Homo sapiens: one gene and its partners. The protein of the gene in region 7 purifies or fractionates together with the protein of the main gene of each other region. This does not show direct contact. Each region holds a gene or a part of one and is shown on either strand. Other genes may lie near its edges.

What was found.
Region 1: the proteins of TRIM24 (region 7) and LMNB1 purify together in Homo sapiens (affinity purification with mass spectrometry, with the first as the bait; one large-scale study listed by BioGRID). This does not show direct contact.
Region 2: the proteins of TRIM24 (region 7) and SMG7 purify together in Homo sapiens (affinity purification with mass spectrometry, with the first as the bait; one large-scale study listed by BioGRID). This does not show direct contact.
Region 3: the proteins of TRIM24 (region 7) and TNRC6A purify together in Homo sapiens (affinity purification with mass spectrometry; 2 studies listed by BioGRID, with this or other methods). This does not show direct contact.
Region 4: the proteins of TRIM24 (region 7) and FAM120A purify together in Homo sapiens (affinity purification with mass spectrometry, with the first as the bait; one large-scale study listed by BioGRID). This does not show direct contact.
Region 5: the proteins of TRIM24 (region 7) and CNOT4 purify together in Homo sapiens (affinity purification with mass spectrometry, with the first as the bait; one large-scale study listed by BioGRID). This does not show direct contact.
Region 6: the proteins of TRIM24 (region 7) and DSG1 purify together in Homo sapiens (affinity purification with mass spectrometry, with the first as the bait; one large-scale study listed by BioGRID). This does not show direct contact.

Annotation. Positions count from the first base shown.
Region 1 is NC_000005.10:126,832,636-126,836,135, reverse strand, and holds part of LMNB1 (lamin-B1), read right to left. Parts: intron 3,443-3,500; coding exon 3,335-3,442; intron 1-3,334. UniProt on the Homo sapiens protein: Lamins are intermediate filament proteins that assemble into a filamentous meshwork, and which constitute the major components of the nuclear lamina, a fibrous layer on the nucleoplasmic side of the inner nuclear membrane.
Region 2 is NC_000001.11:183,541,999-183,545,498, forward strand, and holds part of SMG7 (nonsense-mediated mRNA decay factor SMG7), read left to right. Parts: intron 1-77; coding exon 78-504; intron 505-2,354; coding exon 2,355-2,499; intron 2,500-2,931; coding exon 2,932-3,314; intron 3,315-3,500. UniProt on the Homo sapiens protein: Plays a role in nonsense-mediated mRNA decay. Recruits UPF1 to cytoplasmic mRNA decay bodies.
Region 3 is NC_000016.10:24,792,151-24,795,650, reverse strand, and holds part of TNRC6A (trinucleotide repeat-containing gene 6A protein), read right to left. Parts: intron 2,179-3,500; coding exon 2,002-2,178; intron 1,108-2,001; coding exon 932-1,107; intron 1-931.
Region 4 is NC_000009.12:93,458,185-93,461,684, reverse strand, and holds part of FAM120A (constitutive coactivator of PPAR-gamma-like protein 1), read right to left. Parts: intron 1-3,500. UniProt on the Homo sapiens protein: Component of the oxidative stress-induced survival signaling. May regulate the activation of SRC family protein kinases. May act as a scaffolding protein enabling SRC family protein kinases to phosphorylate and activate PI3-kinase.
Region 5 is NC_000007.14:135,391,603-135,395,102, reverse strand, and holds part of CNOT4 (CCR4-NOT transcription complex subunit 4), read left to right. Parts: intron 1-687; coding exon 688-1,185; intron 1,186-3,500. UniProt on the Homo sapiens protein: Has E3 ubiquitin ligase activity, promoting ubiquitination and degradation of target proteins. Involved in activation of the JAK/STAT pathway. Catalyzes ubiquitination of methylated RBM15.
Region 6 is NC_000018.10:31,331,660-31,335,159, forward strand, and holds part of DSG1 (desmoglein-1 preproprotein), read left to right. Parts: intron 1-41; coding exon 42-208; intron 209-1,929; coding exon 1,930-2,064; intron 2,065-2,357; coding exon 2,358-2,543; intron 2,544-3,500. UniProt on the Homo sapiens protein: Component of intercellular desmosome junctions. Involved in the interaction of plaque proteins and intermediate filaments mediating cell-cell adhesion.
Region 7 is NC_000007.14:138,582,259-138,585,758, forward strand, and holds part of TRIM24 (transcription intermediary factor 1-alpha), read left to right. Parts: intron 1-1,591; coding exon 1,592-1,741; intron 1,742-2,483; coding exon 2,484-2,693; 3' UTR 2,694-3,500. UniProt on the Homo sapiens protein: Transcriptional coactivator that interacts with numerous nuclear receptors and coactivators and modulates the transcription of target genes.

The DNA of each region.
Region 1 (3,500 bases), on a different chromosome or scaffold from region 7:
TACCAAACCATATTACCTAACCTCAAATGGACCCTTTATCATCTCTCATCTTTTCTAACCTTTTCTTTTTTTCTTTTTCTTTGTTTGTTTGAGATAGAGTCTCACTCTGTTGCCCAGGCTGGAGTGCAGTGGTGCAATCTTGGCTCACTGCAACCTCTACCTCCTGGGTTCAAGCGATTCTCATGCCTCAGCCTCCCGAGCAGCTGCGACTACAGGTGTGCATCACCACCACGTTAGCCAGGCTGGTCTTGAACTCCTGGCCTCAAGTGATCCACCTGCCCTTGGCCTCCCAAAGTGCTGGGATTACAGGCGTGAGCCACCGTATCTGGCCTCTAACCTTCTTTTATGGACTTCTTTCTAGAATACCCCCCAACAAATTCCAGAACAGTAATTGTCAACTCTGGCTACACATTCAGATCCTGAGGAGTTTAAAACAAATTCTGATCTAGGTCCCTTGATCAATCAAATAAGAATTTCTCATTTTACTGGGAAAGGGTAGCTATCTATATATAATTTTAAAGTAATTCTAATGTGCAGCTCAATTTGAAAACCATTGTTCAATAACCTCTTTTGATAACTTAGGAAATAGGAGATCAGTGGATCAGCTTTTAACAACCACATCGGAGACTACAGCTTGCTAGATCCTGAACTTACACATCCCAAGCCATCTGCAGTGGATTTGTCCTCCAAGGTGAAGTCAACATGGCTCCTCTACCCATTTCTTTATCACTCATTAATTTCATATAACCTCACAATATGACTTGTGACTCACCACTGATTGAACTAAAACTGGTTTTTTGAAGGTCACCAAAATATTTCTAATCAATTCAAAAGGCGATTGGATTCATCCTCAAATATGAAGTTCAAACGCCTGTTCTGCCCTTCCATCTTCCCTCTTATGAACCTTGGTATCATTAGTTTCTGTGATCACAAAAGCTAAAAACCTCATACATCTTTATTTTTTTTCTTCTCTCACCCTCAAGTTTAGTCACTAAGCCTTAATAAATTTCCATTATATATTCCCTCACTGCCTCTGGAATCTCCTCTCTAGAGTTAGTCCCTCTGATTCAGCTTGGCCAGTGATATTTTAAAATGCAGTCTTAACTTCTCCTTTGTTCCAAATTGTACAGAAGCTACATCCCTAAGCATTCCAGACTATGTCAGTTTAATTCCAATCTTTCAACTTCATTTAACTCTCACATGAACCCTACAAAATAACTGGATGAGCGGATATAGTTGGTGCATTAAGTCTTTTTTTATGAGGCAGAGTCTCACTCTGTCACCCAAGCTGGAGTGCAGTGGCGCCATCTCAGCTCACTGCAAGCTCCGCCTCCCGGGTTCACGCCATTCTCCTGCCTCAGCCTCCCGAGTAGCTGGGACTACAGGCTCCCGCCACCACGCCCGGCTAATTTTTTGTATTTTTAGTAGAGACGGGGTTTCACCGTGTTAGCCAGGATGGTCTCGATCTCCTGACCTTGTGATCTGCCTGCCTCCCAAACTGCTGGGATTACAGGCGTAAGCCACCGTGCCCGGCCACATTCTTTACACATCCTCTGTAGTGAGTTAAAGATCACCATGAATTCTTTGCCATTCCTCCCACCAACAGGTGGAGACTATTTACCCCCACTTTGAATCTGGACTGGCCTCATGACTTTGACTAAGAGAATGTTACAAAGGGCCCTTTAAGAAACCTGGTACTCTCTTGAGATTGAGATTGTCGTGGCCAACATGGTGAAACTCCATCTCTACTACAATATAAAAAATTAGCCAGGCGTGGTGGCGCATGCCTGTAATCCCAGCTACTTGGGAGACTGAGGCAGGGGTATCTCTTGAACCTGGGAGGTGGAGGTTGCGGTGAGCTGAGATTGCGCCACTGCGCTCCAGCCTGGCGACACAGCAAGACTCTATCTCAAAAAAAAAAAAGAAAAAAGAAAGAAACCTGTACCCTCCACTTACTCTGTTAGACAATTGCCATGCTATAAAGCTTTGACTAAACTCTTAAATCATAGAAATCCACACAGAAAGAGACCTAAAAGATATTCCAGCCGAGGCCAACCTCTGAGCTGAACACAGCCTGCTCGATTGAGTTCAGTCTGCAGCATGTGGAACAGAAACACTGCCCAGCTGAGCCCAGTCAAACCACAGAATTATGGGAAGTAAGAAATCACTGTTTTAAGCCACTAAGCTTTGGGGTGGTCTGTTAGTGAAGCAATGGTGAATTCCAACATCCTCAGAGCACCATCATCTGCCTTCTCTCCAATAACCAAATAATCACCCATCCTTCAAATTAGTGGACAAGCATCACCTCACAGAGTTCTTCTCAACTACTCTGCTGGCCTGGAGTACCTCCTCTAGCATCTGACATGCTATATAACTCATGCTGACCCTCTTGTCTGGTGCCTTGAGTTATCTCTTACATAATTATTTTACTTCTAGTAATTACGATGGTTCCCATTGAAGCACAGAAAATGGAACTTGTGCTTGTTTCTTGTAAGTTAAGTGTAACATATGTGTTTTAAAATATTCCTCCAAAATGTATGAGAAGGCATCCAGGTAAAAAATTCATGCTACTTCATGCAACCCACCTCAAGTGGTTCTCAACCCTGGGGGTTAAATATATGAGACAGTGTTTATTTAGACCAGGACTAGGGCTAATGAAGCAAAGCAGACTTAAGACTAAAAATCTGGAGCCATGGAAACAAAGTCTTATCAGGATAAGGGTAGACACTTTGATTAATGATCGGACTCAAACAGCTTGAGAATATAAACTGAAGGCTCATTAGTTATTAATAATTCCAATTTAATTATAATTAAAACCAAATTTGGAGTTTCTTTATTTCAAGGGCTCTCAAAAGCCCAACCATCAGCCAAAATCTATCTTCAATTAGATAATGATTAGGAACTTAATACAGCAAGAATTTTGTTTCACACTGAAGTTGAATATTACTTTGTTTTTTTAAAGTTTATATGCAGATTCTTGCTCTAAATTAGTGATCTAAACCTTTTAATCATAGGACCCTACAGAGTAAACAAGTTTGGAGTAAACATCCAATCCATAGACATGTTTTACTGTAACACATAATGCACATTAGAAAACAAAGGACAAAACTGAAACTTGGTACAATGAGAAAAAATAAAAATAAAAGTGCCAACATATTCTTCCAGTACCCTAAAGTATCACCTTGAATATCCCTTTGGGGAGTACAAACCCCACTTGGTAGATAACTGCGCTGGTTCATCAACTGATAGGGGAAAAACCCAACCACACTCTTGGTCTTCATGTAATTCTGTGAATAAAATTTGAAATAAATATATTAAATAAATAAAGTAATACCTGCTGGTGGAAAAGTTCTTCCTCAACAACCACTCCAGCTGCTTCTTCCTCCTCCTCCTCTTCTTCAGGTATGGTTGTTTTAAAGACTGTACTTCTTTGAGCAACCTCCTAAAAACAATAGTAGTTTAAGTTAAAAAACACACTTAAAATCACCAAATGCGGGGGA
Region 2 (3,500 bases), on a different chromosome or scaffold from region 7:
CTTGGATCCACACACAATTCAGTTGTTATTTTTTAAGTTAATGTTTTTTATATATGGATTTATTTTTGCTTTTTTAGGCTGATTCAGTGTGAAAATGAGGTAGGGAAATTGTTGTTTATCACAGAAATCCCAGAATTAATACTGGAAGACCCCAGTGAAGCCAAAGAGAACCTCATTCTGCAAGAAACATCTGTGATAGAGTCGCTGGCTGCAGATGGGAGCCCAGGGCTAAAATCAGTGCTATCTACAAGCCGAAATTTAAGCAACAACTGTGACACAGGAGAGAAGCCAGTGGTTACCTTCAAAGAAAACATTAAGACACGAGAAGTGAACAGAGACCAAGGAAGAAGTTTTCCTCCCAAAGAGGTGAGAAGGGACTATAGCAAAGGAATAACTGTAACTAAGAATGATGGAAAGAAGGACAACAACAAGAGGAAAACTGAAACCAAGAAATGCACCTTAGAAAAGTTACAGGAAACAGGAAAGCAGAATGTGGCAGTGCAGGTAAGCTGTATTTGAACTATAAAGCAGGTAGAGGAAGGCTCACACAAAAGGCAAGATTTTTCATTTTGTTCTAAAGCCATGAGAATTGGCCGTCCTGGAAGTTTAAATGCATTATTTAATTGCATAGTAAGGTTATATAAAGAGCTGTGATAGATGGTTACTTTTTCAATTCTTGGGAATTGTGAGTGAAAAAAAAATCTCAGCCTGATTTGACACTTTCGTCAGTCTTCACCAATTTAAGCAGTTTGAAAGGATTAGTTGCAGAGTTGTCAGTTTCACACAGGATTATATTTTATTTAGAAGATATAACTACCATTTGTCAATGCTATAGTGGAGATTTGGGGTCTTCTGTAGATCCAGTAGAACCAAGAGTATATTAAGGCTTATGCAGTTTTTTTTTTTAGATTCACTATAATATATATATATGTGTGTGTGTGTGTGTGTGTGTGTGTGTGTGTGTGTGTGTGTATTTTTTTTCTTGGAAAAATATGAGACTTTTTTATTGACAATTATACTTGTCCCGGCTATTGGTATTAATATCACTTTAATCTTATCCTGGATCCTGGGAATTTATAAAGGAAGAACCCAGGTTTCTTGCTGGGAAAAGATAAGCACTGCTCAGTTATTTGTGACTTTCTTTTTATTAATATATTTTCCCAAATAGAAAAGATGGTTTCATGTAAACAGAAAAGGGCCTTTATTCTGTGATGGTTTTATTAATACTATTAATGTTTGAATAAATACTTAAGCAGCCATGTGAGTTGTTAACACATTTTAGCAAATGTATGTGTTTGCATGAGAAACTTTACATTGTTGAAGGCTGCTTACAAATAAATAGTACCTTTGAAGTATTTCTCTAATTTTTTTGAGAAAGAGAAATAAGAAAATAATAGTTCCATTTTAACATTATAGCAAGGAGAGAAACAGAAAGACAAGGTAGAAATTAAGACATAGGGGAGAGAGAGAGATGCTAGGGAAAGGCAAGAAAAAAAAAAATGAACTAGAAAGCCAAAGGATCCGAGTTTTAGAGATAATGAGTCCAGCATTTTCTGTTTACCTTTCCTCCATTCTCTGTAACTGCTCACAATAAGGTCCAGACTGAAAATACAATCTCCTTTTTTGGTTTCTCATCCATCTCAAATCACCTATAAATGATTAAAGAAAGAAAGAGTAAACATATCACCACACTCTGTACCTCGTCCTGGGTTTTCTATAAATGCTACTCATGTTCCCTCATTTTGCTCAACTTTGAGCAGTGCATATGACATCTACTCTCTGGCTCCATCTATAGGATCTCAGGGCCTGTTCCTTACTGCTGAAAGTATCCTTATTTATTCTGAAGGGTGGTAAAGTTGCAGGGTGGAAGGTGGATGCCTGACTGCACATATGGCTACCCAGATGAAATCAAACTGAGGGCCAAAATAACTCACCTATGGGTTAATAGTCATTATTAGTTCATAATTCATGTATGTCGTTTAATGAATTAGAGTATAGAGAACCCTGGGCCCCAGAACAAGCAACTTAAAGTCATAGACAAGTTTTTTTCAACTTGTTAGCATCAGGCATCTCATTTGTAAAACAAATGGGCTCTAAGGTCCTTTACATTTTTGGATTTTTGTGATCATGGGAAAGCAAAATAATTAGTAAAACTAAGATAGTAAAATTATCTTTTATTGGCTATTAAATAATTTGCTTTGATTTTCCATTTTTAACTTAGGTGAATTTAAATATCTTCAGCATGTACTTTTTGATCTAATGAGGTTTTAAATACTTTCTTAGGAGTAGGGTCTTCTTTCTAGCACATTTGAGTTTCAATTTATTATAGATAGTTTTGCTTCTATTGGTTACAGGTAAAATCCCAGACAGAACTAAGAAAGACTCCAGTGTCTGAAGCCAGAAAAACACCTGTAACTCAAACCCCAACTCAAGCAAGTAACTCCCAGTTCATCCCCATTCATCACCCTGGAGCCTTCCCTCCTCTTCCCAGCAGGCCAGGTAAATATGTTTTGTAATTTCTTCTACTTAATCTTTTCTGTGCAAGAATTTCTATTCAGTCACTGAGAAATGTGTTTTCTGTTGGAGTAATGTTACTAAGCCATAAAAAGTTCTATTTTCCCTAATACTTATAAAATTATTTTTGAACTGTTTGTGTGTAGTGTACATACAAGTGCATGTTTGTTATTATGAAGGAAATCCTATCACTAAATACAGAAGCTACTCACAGAACACTGATTACTTCAGTGGATAGAGGAAAAATATCAAGTCTATTTTTAGTTCTTCAAATCAAGTTAAAGATTGACAACATGACTAATCTCTTTTGTGATGTGTTAGAAGACTCCCTCTACCTACCTGTTAAAAAAAAAATGACTTTTTTTGCAATTTTTTGCTGTTTCCTTAAAACTAAAGCTGTGTTCTTCTGTTTTGAAGGGTTTCCGCCCCCAACATATGTTATCCCCCCGCCTGTGGCATTTTCTATGGGCTCAGGTTACACCTTCCCAGCTGGTGTTTCTGTCCCAGGAACCTTTCTTCAGCCTACAGCTCACTCTCCAGCAGGAAACCAGGTGCAAGCTGGGAAACAGTCCCACATTCCTTACAGCCAGCAACGGCCCTCTGGACCAGGGCCAATGAACCAGGGACCTCAACAATCACAGCCACCTTCCCAGCAACCCCTTACATCTTTACCAGCTCAGCCAACAGCACAGTCTACAAGCCAGCTGCAGGTTCAAGCTCTAACTCAGCAACAACAATCCCCTACAAAAGCTGTGCCGGCTTTGGGGAAAAGCCCGCCTCACCACTCTGGATTCCAGCAGGTAAGTTACAGTTGTGTGTACTATCCAGCTGAATGAAATAAGGGGAAATGCTGAAAGATTCAATGTTAGAAATGCTCATTAAACTTTGACATACTTCTTGCTTAGATTTATAGTGATTATGGGAAAACAAAAGTATTGTCTCTACTGTTTATGAAAGTTCAAATGTTTTCCTTACTCTTGTAAAGG
Region 3 (3,500 bases), on a different chromosome or scaffold from region 7:
GAAAAATTTTAAAAATGAAAATGGCAGGTCCTAGACTTAGAATCCCAGGATTAAAAGTGAGGAACCTTGGCAGTTACCTAGTCCAGCTATCCACTGGTATCTGACTTCTAAGGTCCCTCAAAAGGTAATCATTCTCAAGTAGGGTGGGTTAGGATGTTATGTTAGAACCACCTGGGGGACTGGGCACATATTTTGAAAATGGTCCCCAGGAGGATCTGACAGCAGCCCCCAGTGCCACCTCTTAAGAACCAGTGCTCTAAATCAGTGCTTCCCAAACCTGGCTCTGCATCAGAGACATTTGAGGAGTTTCTTTAGGATAAGAAACTTGGTCCAATTTCCAAAACTTCAGTAGACCTGAGGTACAGGAAGCTGCATTTTTAACAAATGCCATGGGATTTCGATGTACAGCCAGCTTTAGGAATATGATTTGTCCACACATAAAAGCAAAACCAAGCTCAGATCATTCCTAGGGATTTTTGTCACAGGACCTTTTGGGATGGGATAGGGACAAACATGACAGGTGAATAAGGAGGATGGTGACTCTGGGTAAGCGGGTGGCGGGGGACTCCAGGTGAGGAAATGAAATGGGAGATGAACTGGCAGTGGGATGGAAAGAGTCAACATGGAGATTTGCCCTCCTCTTCATCCTCACCACTGCAGGCACCACCCTAGGATGAGGGGTTGTCCCAGGCAGCACTGGTGGAGGGGGAGGAAGAGAGAAATCCCAAGCTGTAGCAGTGGGGAGAAAGGAAGTTCCTGTGGTCTTTCTTATGTTTCTCTAGGTGGCTGCCCATACAAGTGGCTATACCTAAGGTGGGGGCTGCCTGGACTGTACTGACCGCCAGAAATGGGCAGGCGAAAAGTTAATTTTCTGTGGGTAAACTACCTTTGGAATTTAAAGTTTCAAGGGCTTTGCCCTTGAAATGTTTACCTTCGATGACATTTTCTTTGTATATGGTGGCCAATTTAAAGATGAGTTAAGCTCTTGAGATGAATTACTATTCCACATTCCAATCTCCACATCCTCTTCCTCTTCCCAGCCAGTGGGGCGATTTCCAGGCAATGGCATATCATCACCACACCAGCCATCTTGCATAGATTTTGGCCCTGATTGTGGATTTGTGATATAAAGAGAAACATACTTTAATAAAAGAATTCCTTCTGGAGAATAAGTATATATTAAAAATTGGGTAGAGAACCTAAGAAAACACACACGTGCACACTTATTTCCCTTCCTGCATCTGCACAGAAGGAAAGTATGTTTTATACTGAGCTAAACCTTCCATGAAAAATAATATATTCTTATTTAAAAATTTAATAAAACTCCTCCATGCCTTTAACAAATCATAGTTCTTGAACATGGACAATGGTAGCACTCTTGTTTGTACCCACTTAATAATCTGCATAGTGATGCACAGGACAAAGAAGATGAATGAAATTTGAAAGAATTAATTTTTATATATATTTTTAGGGAGAATGGCCAGAGAGTATTCAAAGCCTTAAGCAGAAAGCATCTTATCTTCACACATGGCCCTTGGGATTCCTACCGGGCATCTTGTACACAGCCTATGGGATAATGACAATGTTAATTTCAATCTTGGGTCTTTTCTGAACTATGCTAATTGTAACTTTCAGGGAATCATCTGACAGTCTGAATATGTGTCCTCATGGCTACACTAGTTGGCCTCTCAGGCTGGATGGCATGAAAGTTGCTAGTAGACTCTTCCTAGATAACCTAATTTGGTAAAATATAATTTAGATTTGATGAAGTATATGCAAATGAATAGTTACAGTTCTAAGAAATATGAGAAAAGAGGAAAATTCAGAAAGAGAATAAACCACGTTACAAAATCAAAGAGCAAAATACTGAACATCATCTATCATGTTACATTATATGAATATATTATAAATAACATAGAAACCTTATCTAATTATTTAATTATAGTCAGTGAGTGTTCGCCACTGCTACATAACAGCTACCAGGCATTGTCAATAACTTACCAGATTTGCTTAATGCTTGTGGACCAACAGAGCTGGAGCCCCACGTGGATGTGCTGGATGCCGCAGCAATGGGTTCCCCCCAGCTGGGACCACTGTCTATGGGCTTACCCCATGCTGAAGTACCATTATCCACAGTTGTGGCTGGAGTAGAAGGCTCCCCCCAGGGCTCACCCCAGCCTTTAGAAAGTGTGGGAAAAGAAGTCATCAGCATAGAAGGTAAGGAGGTGCAGTGGAATAAGGGACAATAAAGAAAACTTAGGGACCAAGGATGAAGAACTTCATGTTTATGTACTGAATAATGATACTGTGATAGGCAAAAAGATGGCATCTGTTTTATGTTAAAAAAAGACAAACTATTTCCCATTAATATAAGGTGAGAATTTTTTTAACTTTTTTCATAATTACCCTCTAGACCTAGAGCTGATTTTTGCATAGTTATGGAAAACCACTCTCCTTTGAGCATCAGTTTAATTCCTGAAAAAGTCAAGTCATTCTAAACCAAACCTTGTAAATTGGAGCAGGTGATAAGCTGGGTGACAGTGTATGTATAACATCTGTACCAGCTGGGTACAGTGGCTGATGCCTGTAATCCCAGCACTTTGGGAGGCTGAGGCAGGTGGATCACCTGAGGTCAGGATTTTGAGACCAGCCTGGGCAACATGGCAAAACCTGGTCTCTACTAAAAATACAAAGATTAGCTGGGCGTGGTGGCACACACCTGTAGTCCCAGCTACTCAGGAGGCTGAGACAGGAGAATTGCTTGAACCTGGGAGGTGGAGGCTGCAGTGAACCGAGATCATGCCACTGCACTTCAGCCTGGGTGACGGAGAAAGCCTCCATCTCCAAAAAAAAAAAAAAAAAAAATTGTGCCACAAGTGTACCCCTTCCACACCACCTACACTGGAAAAACAATTTACTACCCAGCTAACAATAATGGGTCACCTACTTTTTACATATGCTGAACAATGCTTATTTTAAAATCTGAAGTATTAGGCTGAGGTTGTCCAAAGCAAAAAAAAAAAAAAAAAAAAAAAAAGCCATAAATGTTTCATTAAAAAAAATCAAAGCCAACAGGCTTCATCTTAGATACATACTTCTTCCTTTTAAGAATCAAACCTAAATTAATACAACAAACTATACTTAGACTAAAAAAAAAAAATTCAGTGCCAAAAAGTTAGCTCATGAAAGCACTCCCATATCCACTTCCAATGAGACTATTAAGTCAATAAAACTTTTATTAACAAAGACAATGTAGCCAATCACACTTAACAAAAATGTTGTTGGGAAAATTTGCAGAGATAGGAATTAGTTCATTATTAGAGAGGAAAGTAAGGATATACTAGAAAGGTATTGTCAAATGTTTTAAATACACAAACATATATACTGTATCTAAGTAGAGTTGGATTTCTCACCTACTTAAAAAAAAAAATCCCTTCTAAAGCCAAATATACAACCTAATGTTTAGAGAGTACTGTATTTATGAGATACTTGTTTTATTT
Region 4 (3,500 bases), on a different chromosome or scaffold from region 7:
TAAAGGAGTGATGTCATAAAAGAAATGCAAATTAAACTTTACAAACTTTAAAAATAAAAAAATACAATGATAAAAGGAAGAAACACACACATTATTTGTATTCAGAATCTATTTAGCCTACTCTAGTAATCTAATGACTCAGCTAAATCCTAGTAATATCATTCTTATTAAAATACCATTCCAAAATCTAAAACATAAAATTTCAATTTTCATAATTTAGGAAAAAGAACCACAGGTTGATACTATTTATTTCAAGATAGTAACACTTGCAAACTCTTCATAGGTCCAGGAAATTAAAACACCTCATCCATGGAGTCTAGTGACCCCCTCCAACAGTCTGGGCTGGCTTGTTACTACTATTCATAAATGTGCTCTACCTCAGAGGATGAATGATGTACTTCAGACCTGTGAAGTCAACCCTCCAGCAATAAACCCTCTAGTATACTTTCCTGCACTAACCAGTAAAACACCAACATGGTAAATTCATCCTTTCAAGAAAGTTAATTGATTCCAGAGACAACTGAGAAATGCCAAATGACTGGCGCATAAAAGTACCGTTTCTAAATCACAGATCCTAAACTCCATAATGCAGATTGACCATCACCTCTACAAATACTGCAGTGGGTCAAGTTCAACTCTTTTACACTGTCCCCTAAGATGCCTAGAAACAATGTGTGATAAAGCCAGGTGTAACAAGAGGAAAGGTGGCTAAATGCAGCCCATTTCCTGAAGCAGTCACCCATTTTATGCCCTCAACACATCTCCTAAGTTAAGAAGCATAAAAGGTTTACTCAAAGATAAAAGCTCTGCACCAGGTGGCCAAGCTGACACCAGTGATTTTGGAATTAACTCTAGGGGGACTTTAAAACTTCTGCTTCCTACCATCTTTCTGCCATCACACTTCCTTGCCTGTAACTGGTGATTCATATCCATTTATCAAATATTTTCTGAGCATGTACTACACACCAAGCATCGCTCTAAGAGCTGGATAACAGGCAAGGTCTTCATCAGATTTACTTCTAGAGAAAACATAAAAATAAGCAAAAATAGGGCCAGGCATAGTGGCTAATGCCTGTAATCCCAGCACTTTGGGAGGCCAGGGCGGGTGGATCACGAGGTCAGGAGTCCGAGACCAGCCTGGCCAACATAGTGAAACCCTGTCTCTACTAAAAATACAAAAATTAGCTGGGCATGGCGTGCCTGTAATCCCAGCTACTTGGGAGGCTGAGGCAGGACAATCACTTGAACCTGGGAGGTGGAGGTTGCAGTCAGCTGAGATTGTGTCACTGCACTCCAGGTTGGGCAACAGAGTGAGACTTCATCTCAAAAAAAAGCGAAAAGGAAATAAACGATGAACTATATGGAGACATTTAGATAATTTAAGAATATTTTTATCTGAACTGTGATTCATTTAAATGCCTGTTTTATTTAGAAAATTCTGCCTATAAATCTACTGGAAAGTAGTCTAAGTTTTCAAATCCTAAAATCTCTCTTCTTCATGTTACGCGATATTTGACATTTATTCCTATGGTGTAGTGCTTATTAAGGTTGGAATGTGTAATATGTGTTAATTAGTTTCTTCCTATTCATATAAATTTCAGAAAACTAAAATGAAGAACAATGTCGATCTAAACATGTTAGACATAGGAGGAAGTATACCTGCGTGTATTTTGATTCAGAAAATTAAGTTGTAGTTTTGATTACTTTCTTCCTGGTGTACTTGGACATCTCTATCGCAAACATTTATATGACTTTACAAAGGCATAAAGCTTATAATTCTTTGATTTGCTCATACCAAGATTTCCTTACCTTGGCACTACTGGTATTTTAGGCCACATTATTCTTTGCTATGGGGGCTGTTCTGTGCACTGTAGAATGTTTGGCAGCATCCTTGGCCTCCACCCAATAGATGCCTTCAGTTAACATCCTCCCCCAGCTGTGACAACCAAAAATGCCTCCAGGCACTGCCAAATGTCCCCTGCCAAATGTCTCAACTGTCAACCCTACTTGAGAGCCACTCACAGGTCTTCACTGAGTAAACATATTGTTCTACAGTATTAAAGAAAGTTCCAAACAAGAAAAAAAGGATTTAAATGAACCTCCTCAACCCAGAGGCTATAGGCTCCCTGAAGGTTTCCTTCCTTTCCTGTTCTGTTCACTCCTCCAGGCCTGGGCATTAACAGGTGCTCAAACATTTGCTGAAAGGAGAATCAATCACCATTGGGAACCAGTCAGAAAAGAGAGTATGAGAAATTTAAGATTAAAAAAACAAAACAAAACTTAAGTAATGGCCATTGATCCAGATTTTGAAATAATTTAATTTGTCTGGCTATATAATGGAATGCAGCAAATATTCTGATTAGAGTTGAGTGCCTATGCTAAGCATAATGGGGTACAAGAGGAGTAAAACAGTCCCTGGCCTCAAGGAGCCTACGGGTGGCTGGGGGAGGTAAATATGCAGTTATGCAGGTAGGTGCAATACAACAGACTAGAATGTCCACTGCAAACATACACCATGCTGTGTGTGTATTCCCAGTCCACTTTTTCAAATATCAAGAGATTCCATGAAGAAGGCTGGCATTTGACATGGGCTTTGAAGTGTAAGTAAAATTTTGATGAGCAAAAGTAGGACACAGTACAGTAGTTAAACAAGAGGGAATGACATAAGCAGAAACTGGATATTTCTTGGGGAAATAGTGACCAGTTGGGTTGGGAACATTTTAAAAAGTACAGTAGAGGGATTGTGAAACATTAAGTAAGGTCAAATGAGTTCAGGTCGCAGGAAGGTCTACAAGTCTGAATAAGGAATTTGGACTTAATGGTTTTGTTCAAGTCCCAACAGGAGAGTGACCTCCCTGAAGATGTGGCCGTCTACCCTGCCAAAGCTGTGCAAGATTAGTTCCACTGGGGCGCGGGGGTAGGTGCAGAGGCCATTCTTACTGCTACCCACAGTAATACAAAAGTGTAATGACATGGAATTTACCTATAGTATATGCCTTGCATTCTATTTTTCATTCTATTTTACTCCGTTATTTTTAAGTAATGGCAAACATCCAATAATTTGGTTTCACAACCCACTGAAGGGTTTGCAAAGCATTTCTTCGACCTTTTGGATAAATATGGTGAATTCAAATGTTGGGGGTACTGGAAAAAAGGAAGAGTATAACAGTTAAGTAGGAGACTACTGAGCCAGAATTGGCCTGGTGTGTCATTATTCTAGGGACTGGGAGGATGGGATGCTGGAATACCAAGCATGACTCTATGGTGGTAGAGGGTGTAACTCTGAAGTGAATGATCATGAAGTTCAAGCTAGTTACAGCTAAAAAGGAAGCCAACAGAATGGGAAAAGAGAAATGGCGGAAGGCAAGCAGGGGACAGACGGTGGGAGCGGCAAGGAGTGACAGGGACACAGCGTTCAGAAGTGTTAAAGGTGGGGTCACTTTTCTCACTAATTATACGGTCCAAGCTCTGGAGTATCTAAAGTGCAATTAGAAATTCAC
Region 5 (3,500 bases), 3.2 Mb from region 7:
ACTTAGATTTTTAATTAGATTTGTATTTTTATTTAATTAGATTTGTGTTTAAGATTTTCCACCCCCAGCTGACAAAGATGCAAGTTATTTAGTAGTAACAGTTATGTTACTACTAAATGGTATTTTTGAGCCATTTCCATTTTTATCCATTCTAAATTCTCTCATTACTATGAAAGGTGGCATAAAAGTAACATTGACAACAGCACCTGTGGAGCAGAAAATTCCAAAAAACTATGAGGATTAATATAAATACTTTTTAATTAAATTATATTTTTCTTAGTATAGAAAGCATGTATTCAAAATTATTTGTACTTTGATAAATACATTTAAAAATCAACTTTACTAATTAAAATCTGTTATATTTATTTGATGGAAGTGACTTAGGTTGGTTTTGATTATGAATGGTTGAGAGTATAATTGGAGTGTCAAGTACATTTTTTTCCTTTGATTAGCAAAATCAGTCTATATCATTCAGTTTTTGAAGCTAGTAGCTTAAGAGTTAAGTAACTGCTAGAAGTACATAAGGCCTTTTGTAATTATATGATCTTAATGTGCTAAGAAGTCACATAGATTTTGCACTTACTTAATTTGTAAAATGACATGTTTAACTTTCAGTAGCATGGATACTTATTAAGTATGAAAATGAGCTATGTATCTGATATTCATCACTATTTTTCTTCCCAACAGAAACAATCCCAGTATCATCCTCTACAGACTGGCAAGCAGCTTTTGGCTTTGGTTCTTCTAAACAACCAGAGGATGACTTGGGTTTTGATCCCTTCGATGTCACTCGAAAAGCCTTAGCAGACCTGATTGAGAAGGAACTGTCCGTTCAAGACCAACCTTCCCTTTCGCCCACATCTCTTCAGAACTCCTCTTCACACACTACAACCGCCAAAGGTCCAGGCTCTGGATTCCTGCATCCTGCTGCAGCTACAAATGCCAATTCTCTCAATAGTACCTTTTCAGTCTTGCCCCAGAGGTTCCCTCAATTTCAGCAGCACCGAGCGGTTTATAATTCATTCAGTTTTCCAGGCCAGGCAGCCCGCTATCCTTGGATGGCCTTTCCACGCAATAGCATCATGCACTTGAACCACACAGCAAACCCCACCTCAAATAGTAATTTCTTGGACTTGAATCTCCCGCCACAGCACAACACAGGTCTGGGAGGGATCCCTGTAGCAGGTAGGTTCATTTAAAACCTTTGAGAATTTTTGAATAACTCATATTTTCAGGTTGTTGGGTGGATAGGGAAGTAACTGTTGAATAACAGAGTACTAATATCTTGGAAATGTCTATGAAAGATTAGTCTTTATCATAATCTAAAATATATTTTTCATTAGATGGATGCCTTGTAATATTGAGCTTTATAAGGATGGTGGAGTATTATACTTAGTTATTGTTTGGAAGCATTTTACTTAATAGGATAATTACCAAACTTTCATATGGTATACAAATGCAAAATGAAAAAGAAGAAAATGGTCTCTGAAGTTATGGTACTATAAAGTCCAACACCGTGGTGAAAATTATGATTTTATATTCTAAAGTAAAATGGTTAAAAAAAATTTTTTTAATGATAATTAATGAGAGCATGAGGGATAAAGCCACTCTCTACCTACTTTTGGCAGTTACTTGTTTTGACTGATACACATATACACACACATCAAAACTGAGCTATAAATATACTTGAGAACTCTGATTATGAATGTTTTACAAGCATATCATATGTCTCAGACATACACCTTTTGTGAAAGAGAAATTGTTCAAGGAAAGATACTTTCCCATTTGATCTGCCATGTTTTTATTTCTGGGGAAAAATATGAAGTATATATAAGGTAATGTAAGTTTGATGCCAAAATACTTCTGGTTTTGTACTGCTACCCTTGAAGGTTTCAGAACTTTTGGGTTTTAAGATTCTATATAACATTTTTTAGATGAAGTATCTTCTATATCCAAGGGAATTATTCTTGTTAATAGTGTTCTCGTTTAACTTTGGCTTTAGAGATGATGTTAAAAAAAGTTTGTTCCTCTCCTGATTCTCTCAAGTGAAATAGAATCATGATTCTCTCAAGTAGAATACAATAGTTTCTCACTCTGTTAGAATAGTTCTTCACATAATTCATACAATTTATTGTTATCCCTTGTTAGATATGGCATGGCACAGTATTATTGTAATAGGATACTTTTATCAGCAGCAAGGCAGAAGTTCACGCTCTTGTTTTTAGCAAGGCTGATAGATGAATTTACAGAGGTCTATCAAAGTTCTTTATCCCTGTTCCCTTTGGGACCGACAATATTTCATGTTTTAGACGAGTAGCTAGGTTAAGAGAATATAGTTTGTGGCTGTTGACATAGTGAAATTTACCGTTGATACAGTGAAGTTAATTTACATAAGCCTGGTAGCACGTAATGTAGTTATTTGCACAGTGTTGGGACTCTTATTTGTTCATTTAATTATGGTAGTTAGTAGGTAACCAGAGTGACATTTTTCAGTCCTCTTCTTCTACATGATACTTACTTGTGAAACAATGTGTTCAGTTCCAAATACTCCTTTTATTTCCTTCCATTCAAGATAGCATATTAGAATGTAATTTTCTTTGATTTTACTTTGCTTTAATCATTGAGAAATGTGGCATTTTAATTACTAGTAGTGTATCTCATAATTGATTATAACATTCATTAAAAGTTAAAGTTAAGTTCTCCCAAATCATCAAAACATTTAAAGATTAGACCAATTACAGTGAATATGAGGGTTTCTATTTGCCCATCAATGAATTAGGACATGTGGGACATATTAAAGAAGTTTAAGATATGGATAAAATTTCCACATACTTAAAGTATAGTTGAAGAGACTAAAATAATGTGTGAAAGTGGTAACTATATGTCTGATACTGGAATCTGAGAGACATCAATGTACCCTGTAATTCTTGGGGAGGCTTCATTGAATAAGTAGGAATTGATCCCTACTATCATATCTTAGATTTGGGTTAGCAGCAGGGGAAGAGAAAAGGCCTTTTATGTTGATGGAAACCTCCTGAGTAAAGGCATAGAGGCAGGAATTAGTATGTCATTACACTGAGAAGTAATACAGCTACCTCCTATAACAGGAGGTGCTTCTTAAATTGTATAGATATAATGGATGAGAAGATGAGAAACTCTGACAATGAGGCAAAATGGCATGGACTTGGTATGATAGGAAGTAGGATGCCTTTATGGGATTCTAGTTATTAGCTGTCTTCTTTTTGTGCTTTTATTTGACTTATTACATGACGATCTTTGATTTTCTTCCAATTTCATAGTCATCATATTATCCCTTAACACTGAAGAGTAGTTTTAACCCATATATTTCAAACCAATAGTTATTCTCAGAATGCTGCACTGGTAATGAGAAATCGCTGATTAGTGAGTTTAGTTGTCCTTGTGTTAGTCATTTAAAATCTTCGTCTAAAGTAGATGCTTTATGGAAAAAATGTGACATTAAATTATGGTCCTATCTTTGG
Region 6 (3,500 bases), on a different chromosome or scaffold from region 7:
TGTAAATCACCCATTTGCAATCAATTTTCCTTAATTTCTAGATACACTGGTGATGATACTCAATGCTACTGACGCAGATGAACCGAACAATTTGAACTCAAAAATAGCCTTCAAGATTATAAGACAAGAACCTTCAGATTCACCAATGTTTATTATCAACAGAAATACTGGAGAAATTCGAACGATGAATAATTTTCTAGACAGAGAGGTAATTCTTTTTCTTTAAGTGGGTTTTTGGTCTCAAAGGAACTGATTCTAAAAGCAAGGATACTGAAGAGACAAAGAGATGAAGAAAATGATGGTTTAAATTTTTACTTGTATAACTTTTTCACATAATTCTTTCATGTAAGAAATATTTTTTAAATGAAAAAGGGAGGATTTTTCAATTACGTTTTGTACTATTTTTCATATAATTAATTGATTAAAATTTACTTCAATTTAAGAAAACTATATTGTGAAAGTACATGAAAATATGCCTAAGGTAGAATCTAAGGTAGAATCAAAAGCTCCATTTCTCTAAAAAGTGTGTTCTATAATAAAATGAATTTAGGAATGACTTGCTATATGTCCACGTTTTGGTGAGTTACAGTGCATGCGAGTATGCTGGAGGCTCCAGGAATATTGATACACTAAGTTCTCTTTCTTTAACCTAGCATATCTAAGCTCCATTGACAACAGAATTCTTGTTTTTCCTATGTAACATCTATTGATAGCTCACCCATTCATTTACTTTGGGAAATGAACCACAGGATAAGAATGATGGATAGGAATTAAATGACAGACTGACCAATCTTTTTATTTACAAATAAGAAAATAACTAGTGATGTTAACAGAGTAAAATCAGCATTATGAGGTTTCTAGCATGCCTTGTGATTTTATGATTTAGTTTTAAAATAAGTGCTTTTTCATTATTTAAAAAAAATTGTCTTTTAATAGAATGTTGCAACCTAAATGTACATTAGGAGCATAAGTGAGGAAGCTTTATTTTCTGATGGTATTCAATTAATTTTGTTTTAATTATTAAAAATGACAATCTTCTTGCTGATGACTTTTAGGTTTAGGATAATTCATATTATTTTAATACTCTTTAATTATCTAAATGTTACAAGTTTCTATGTTACCTAAGTCTCCTTTTATACATGTTTGAAAATCAACATTAGAAGAAATTGAATGTTTACACTTTTCTCTCTCAAACTGTCTTAAACAGCCCAATGAGGTTTCTTTCATGTCAAAAGAGCTTTCGTGGTAAAGCACTGTAAGAAAGGGCTGTCAGAAGGAAAGGGACTCTGCAGCCATTGGGAAGCCACCAGGGCAGATATTCTCAACCTGGGGTCAATGGAGAGACCTCAAGATGTCTCTATAAAACCCCCTAAATTATATCCACCATTTTGAATGAGTGTGCATTTTTGCATGAGTCAAGGAAAGCCTCCATAGATTTTACCAGCTTCTAGAAATATAAGCACCATTGAATAGAGTCAAGAATAGATACATCACCAATAATTCCACTGCCATAACCCACTACCTCTCAAAACACAAAGCTTTGTTATCTGTTTATATGCTTCTTGCACACTCGGGGGCTGATTATTTAGGTTATGGAATATTCATGCCATAAATTTTTGGTAAACTTAATCTCTCTCCTTGAGATCATTCTGGTTTGTTTTACCCTTTATAAACTTTTTCAACCTCTGGACATATTATTATTAATAAGAAATGAAGCCTTTTAAAACGTGTTGCATCTTTTAAATAATGCGTGATAAGTATTATTGGGAATAATCATGTGAAACTTGTGGATTTCCCATATTCTGTGTTAACCCTACCTCTATCATAGATTTATGTAAACGTTGAGCCAACTTTTCAAAGAACTTTACATAAGACAAAGTAAAGGCTGTCTACGTCAAGTGTGATATTGCCTGTAATATGTATTTTTAGCAATACGGCCAGTATGCTCTTGCTGTAAGAGGCTCTGACCGAGATGGCGGGGCAGATGGCATGTCAGCGGAATGTGAGTGCAACATTAAAATCCTCGATGTCAATGATAATATCCCTTACATGGAACAGTCTTCAGTAAGTATTTGTTCTTGGAATTAATAAATCTAAATTCGCTATATTCTAAAACATATACGAACAATTCTGCTTACAGAGGCACATGTTATGTTTATTGACATACAACCCAAATGTAGACACATACTTTTTTCTTGTGTTTATGCAAGAATAAATGGAGTTAAGCAATGAAAAATGAGATGAAAACCACAGATATCTTTTCTAAATAATGAAGTTATCAACATTCCAGTATAAGCCTACTGTAGTTCTCTCTCTTTCACACAGTTTGTGCTAAGAGTTTTCACTTCTTGTTTCAGTATACCATAGAAATTCAAGAAAATACTCTAAATTCAAATTTGCTCGAGATTAGAGTAATTGATTTGGATGAAGAGTTCTCAGCTAACTGGATGGCAGTAATTTTCTTTATCTCTGGAAATGAAGGAAATTGGTTTGAGATAGAAATGAATGAAAGAACAAATGTGGGAATTTTAAAGGTTGTTAAGGTATGGTATAATTATCCTAAATATTTTGTTTTCTTAATCTTTTTTCAAAATGTTAAACTTAAAATAAAATGATGCTAACATTTCACAAACTTGGCTTAGTGAAAGAATAAAAATTACTGTGTTTTAAATATATATATAACATAGAGCTTTTTAATATAGTCTTTCTGCTTATAATCATTTTAGAAAAACAGGTATTGAATTTTAACTGGAGACAGTTTGTCAATACAGTACTCCCAAATAGATCATATAAATTGAAAACACTTAAAAATATATTTTATGCTTACAACAAAGTATAATTAATCCTTAAGGTTAATGTCTTAAGAACTTTTTAAAGCATATTTAATAGAGGCTTTAAAACTGTGTCCATGTCAACATTGTAAGTCAATTATTACACATGTAGAATATTCATCATGTAAATAAAAATGTATTTATTCCTCCCGCGTGTTTTCATAAAATTTAAGTTAAATTACTATAAATGTAGAATTATCACACTCCCATCTCACTGTGGCTGCTGATCAAGGCTTATTAGGAACACAGATATACTGGAAATTTGGTCCAAGTCAACCGGTCCAGAACAACTGGATGCCGTTCTCTTATGTCCTCCCCATATTAATGGTCCACATTTACCTGCAGTAAAATTTCATCTGAGATGTGAGAAAAAAAATTTGCCTCCTAGGGAGCTGATAGTCAAAGTTTCGCCCTGTGCTACACAACTTACACAGTCGATTTTTAAAATCTACAACAGCTGTTTATGGATTGTATATGTTGCATGCAATATATAGTTTCATGGTAAAATATAATCCCTATTTAACTATTTCTTTTTTCAGACTAGGTCTGGAAAACAGACTCTCAAACGACTCTGTCCCCATACGAATGTGTGGCTTTTTGCCTCCTGTGTCTTCTTAAAGTGTCACCATGCCTACAGCTTGTATTTAATTTGAGACAGTACGCAGGTGC
Region 7 (3,500 bases):
GTGGCCGGGCGCGGTGGCTCACGCCTATAATCCCAGCACTTTGGGAGGCCGAGGCGGGCGGATCACGAGGTCAGGAGATAGAGACCATCCTGGCTAACACGGTGAAACCCCGTCTCTACTAAAAATACAAAAAATTAGCCAGGTGTGGTGGCAGGCGCCTGTAGTCCCAGCTACTCGGGAGGCTGAGGCAGGAGAGTGGCGTGAACCTGGGAGGCGGAGCTTGCAGTGAGCCGAGATCATGCCACTGCACTCCAGCCTGGGCAAAAGAGCAAGACTCCGTCTCAAAAAAAAAAAAAAAAAAGTTTGATGTGACTTTAACGCATAATTTTAGAGTGCTGGAAAGGGCCTGGTACCCCAAAAGAGTATTCTTCTAATGTCTGAACCCCGGAGGCGGAGGTTGCAGTGAGCCGAGATTGCGCCATTGCTCTCCAGCCTGGGCAACAAGAGCAAAACTCTGTCCCAAAAAAAAAATTTTTTTTCATTTGTTCTACAGTTTGATAAATCTCAAATTAATACAAAGTTGAGAAGAAAATCAGCTTAGTAAATACAGTCAGCTTCTCTCTTAAGAACAGGTTTTGAGAACTTGATATAGGAAATAAATACCTCCAGGGAGAAGGGTCTTTTGTACCCAAAAGAGGCAGGGTAAAGAAGTCGAGAGGCTTGTAACAACATTACCAACTTGAAAATGTAACCTTGAATTGTACTTTTTATTATCCTGGCTTACAGTTACGTTATTAATACCAACAATGACAAAGTAGCCCCCTTTTTCTTAATAAATATCATCTCATTTAGTCTGTACAAAATGCTGTGAGTTTGGCAGGATTATCCCTATTTGAAATATGAAGAAACTGAGGTTAAGTAGCTTACCCAGGACCATGACACTGAGCAGCAGAGCTGGGGATTAAACCCAGATTCAAAGTCCTTCTTCCTCTTGTATAATACATGCAGCAAAAACATGTCAGATTCTACTAGAAATGATATTCTTCCTAGTAATTGCTTTTTGTTTAATAATGAAGAAAAAAATCTAGATGATTAAGAGGAAATATGTGAAGACAAGTTTTTTCATTAAAAATAATTGGGGCTGGGTGCAGTGGCTCACGCCTGTAATCCCAACATTTTGGGAGGCTGAGGCAGGCAGATTGCTTGAACCCAGGAGTTTGAGACCAGCCTGGGCAACATGGCAAAACCCCATCTCTACAAAAAATACAAAAATTAGCCGGCTATGTTAGCGCATGCCTGTAACCCCAGCTACGCGAGAGGCTGAGGTGAGAGGATCACTTAAGCCCAGGAGGCAAAGTTTGCAGTGAGCCGAGATTGTGTCACTGCACTCCAGCCTGGGTGACAGAGCAAGACCCTGTCTCAAAAATAATAATTGGTTAAACTTTTGGAAAAAGTCACACAAACCTTTACCAGTGTGTGTGGAAGGCAGTGGGCACTTGTAAACACTGTTAAATGGGTTTCTTTACTAATGGCAAATAGCACAGAGAAAAGCAATGAGAACATTCTGAATTTTAGAGCACATCTCATAGAATATATTTAGGACAAGGTGGAATTTAGCTATTTGTATTATAACATCTCATTTTTTTAATAGGTGCCTGATTATTACAAAATAATTAAAAATCCAATGGATTTGTCAACCATCAAGAAAAGACTACAAGAAGATTATTCCATGTACTCAAAACCTGAAGATTTTGTAGCTGATTTTAGATTGATCTTTCAAAACTGTGCTGAATTCAATGAGGTGAGGCTAGGGGAGGGAAGGGGGCAGGAAGGAACAGCAGTGTGAAAATCATTTTATTACTAAACACCTTGTCAACATAGGAGACCAAGATGTCTGAGTTAGAATAAATTTCCAACTTTTCAGATCAGGGAATGCAAGAGATAATTCAGATAACTCTGTCCACATTTATATTCAAAGGTTTATTAGATGGTGATGGAAATGCAAATTACAGCTGATAACTGAAAGACAAAATGTTTTTCTCTGACCTAGACATATTCTTTATCATTCCCACCTGTATTTCTTATTTTTATGTTGATCTTGAAATATTAAGGATGTGGGCCAAATAGCTCTAATTTAAAAATTTCTCATCTGTCAGTTCATCTACACATCAGTCAGACTTAGAACCTTTTGCTGCTGGTGGTTTGTTCTCTGTTACTCATTCTAATAGTACTACATTTAATTTGTTCTAAAAATACCTGGTTCATGATCCTATGGTTATGGAATCCTAACTGATATGTGTTTGGCAATATAGTCCTACCATTACCACCTTCTTTTAGAATAATCCAGGCTTTTACTTTTATCTTTTTTCCACACTTCTGAATCTTTTATTTTAGCTGGCCTTCTGTACAGAGACTTTGTCTAGTCCTAAACTATTATTTCAATGACTATGCATGAACACTTTTCAAAACAGCTCATTAATATATATAATCTCAGAAGTCAAAAGTGTGTCCTTTTTTTACTCATTTTTATTTTTACTCCACAGCCTGATTCAGAAGTAGCCAATGCTGGTATAAAACTTGAAAATTATTTTGAAGAACTTCTAAAGAACCTCTATCCAGAAAAAAGGTTTCCCAAACCAGAATTCAGGAATGAATCAGAAGATAATAAATTTAGTGATGATTCAGATGATGACTTTGTACAGCCCCGGAAGAAACGCCTCAAAAGCATTGAAGAACGCCAGTTGCTTAAATAATATGCAGCACCACTAGCTTGTGCTGGTTTTTAGATTTTTTTGTTTTCAAAAAAACATTTGTCAGTAATTTAACATCACTACAAAAAGAAGAGTTTGTGACTATTCTCATCTCTGTTTTGGACGTTTACTAGACTTTGATTTCCTTAATAGCCCATTTCTGTTAACCTCTTATCACTAAGAAAGAAAGGAAAGAAGGAGATGAATAGAAGAAAGAAAATGGAAAGAAGGAAAAAAGGAGGATAGAAAAAGGATGGAAGAAAGAAGCATTGAAAACAAAGACATTCTTCCCACTTCTTGGATTTTTAAACCACAGTCTGGAGTGATAGCTACTGTAGAAAGGAAATAGACTTTGTATGAACTCTTTAAGTTGAAAAGTAAAAAATATATGTGGTTTGGATGTGTGCTTTAATTCAGCTTTAGAAATTAATACCACTACCCGTGAATTATATGGCCTGACAATATGAATTAGGTGTACTGTACTGAAGAACAGTACTCCACAAACATGGGTGGTAACAAGAGTTCCATCCCAGGAGGCCAAACGGTGCAACAGAAGGGTAGGTTAGATGCTATTAAGAAGGCACTTAATAGTACATCATGTAAGATGGCAACTGTATTAAAGAAAAATCCGGAAAACAAATGTTTGATTTTTGTTTTTGTTTTTATCTTGTCTGTAGAGGTATTTTGGTATAGCAGGTTTTCAAGGCCATTTTTTATACATTTCTAGATCTAGATTTTCAACTTCTTCCACTGAGGGAAGTATATACATTTGGGTTTGCTGTGTGTCTATGTGAGGTTTAATTGTACAGG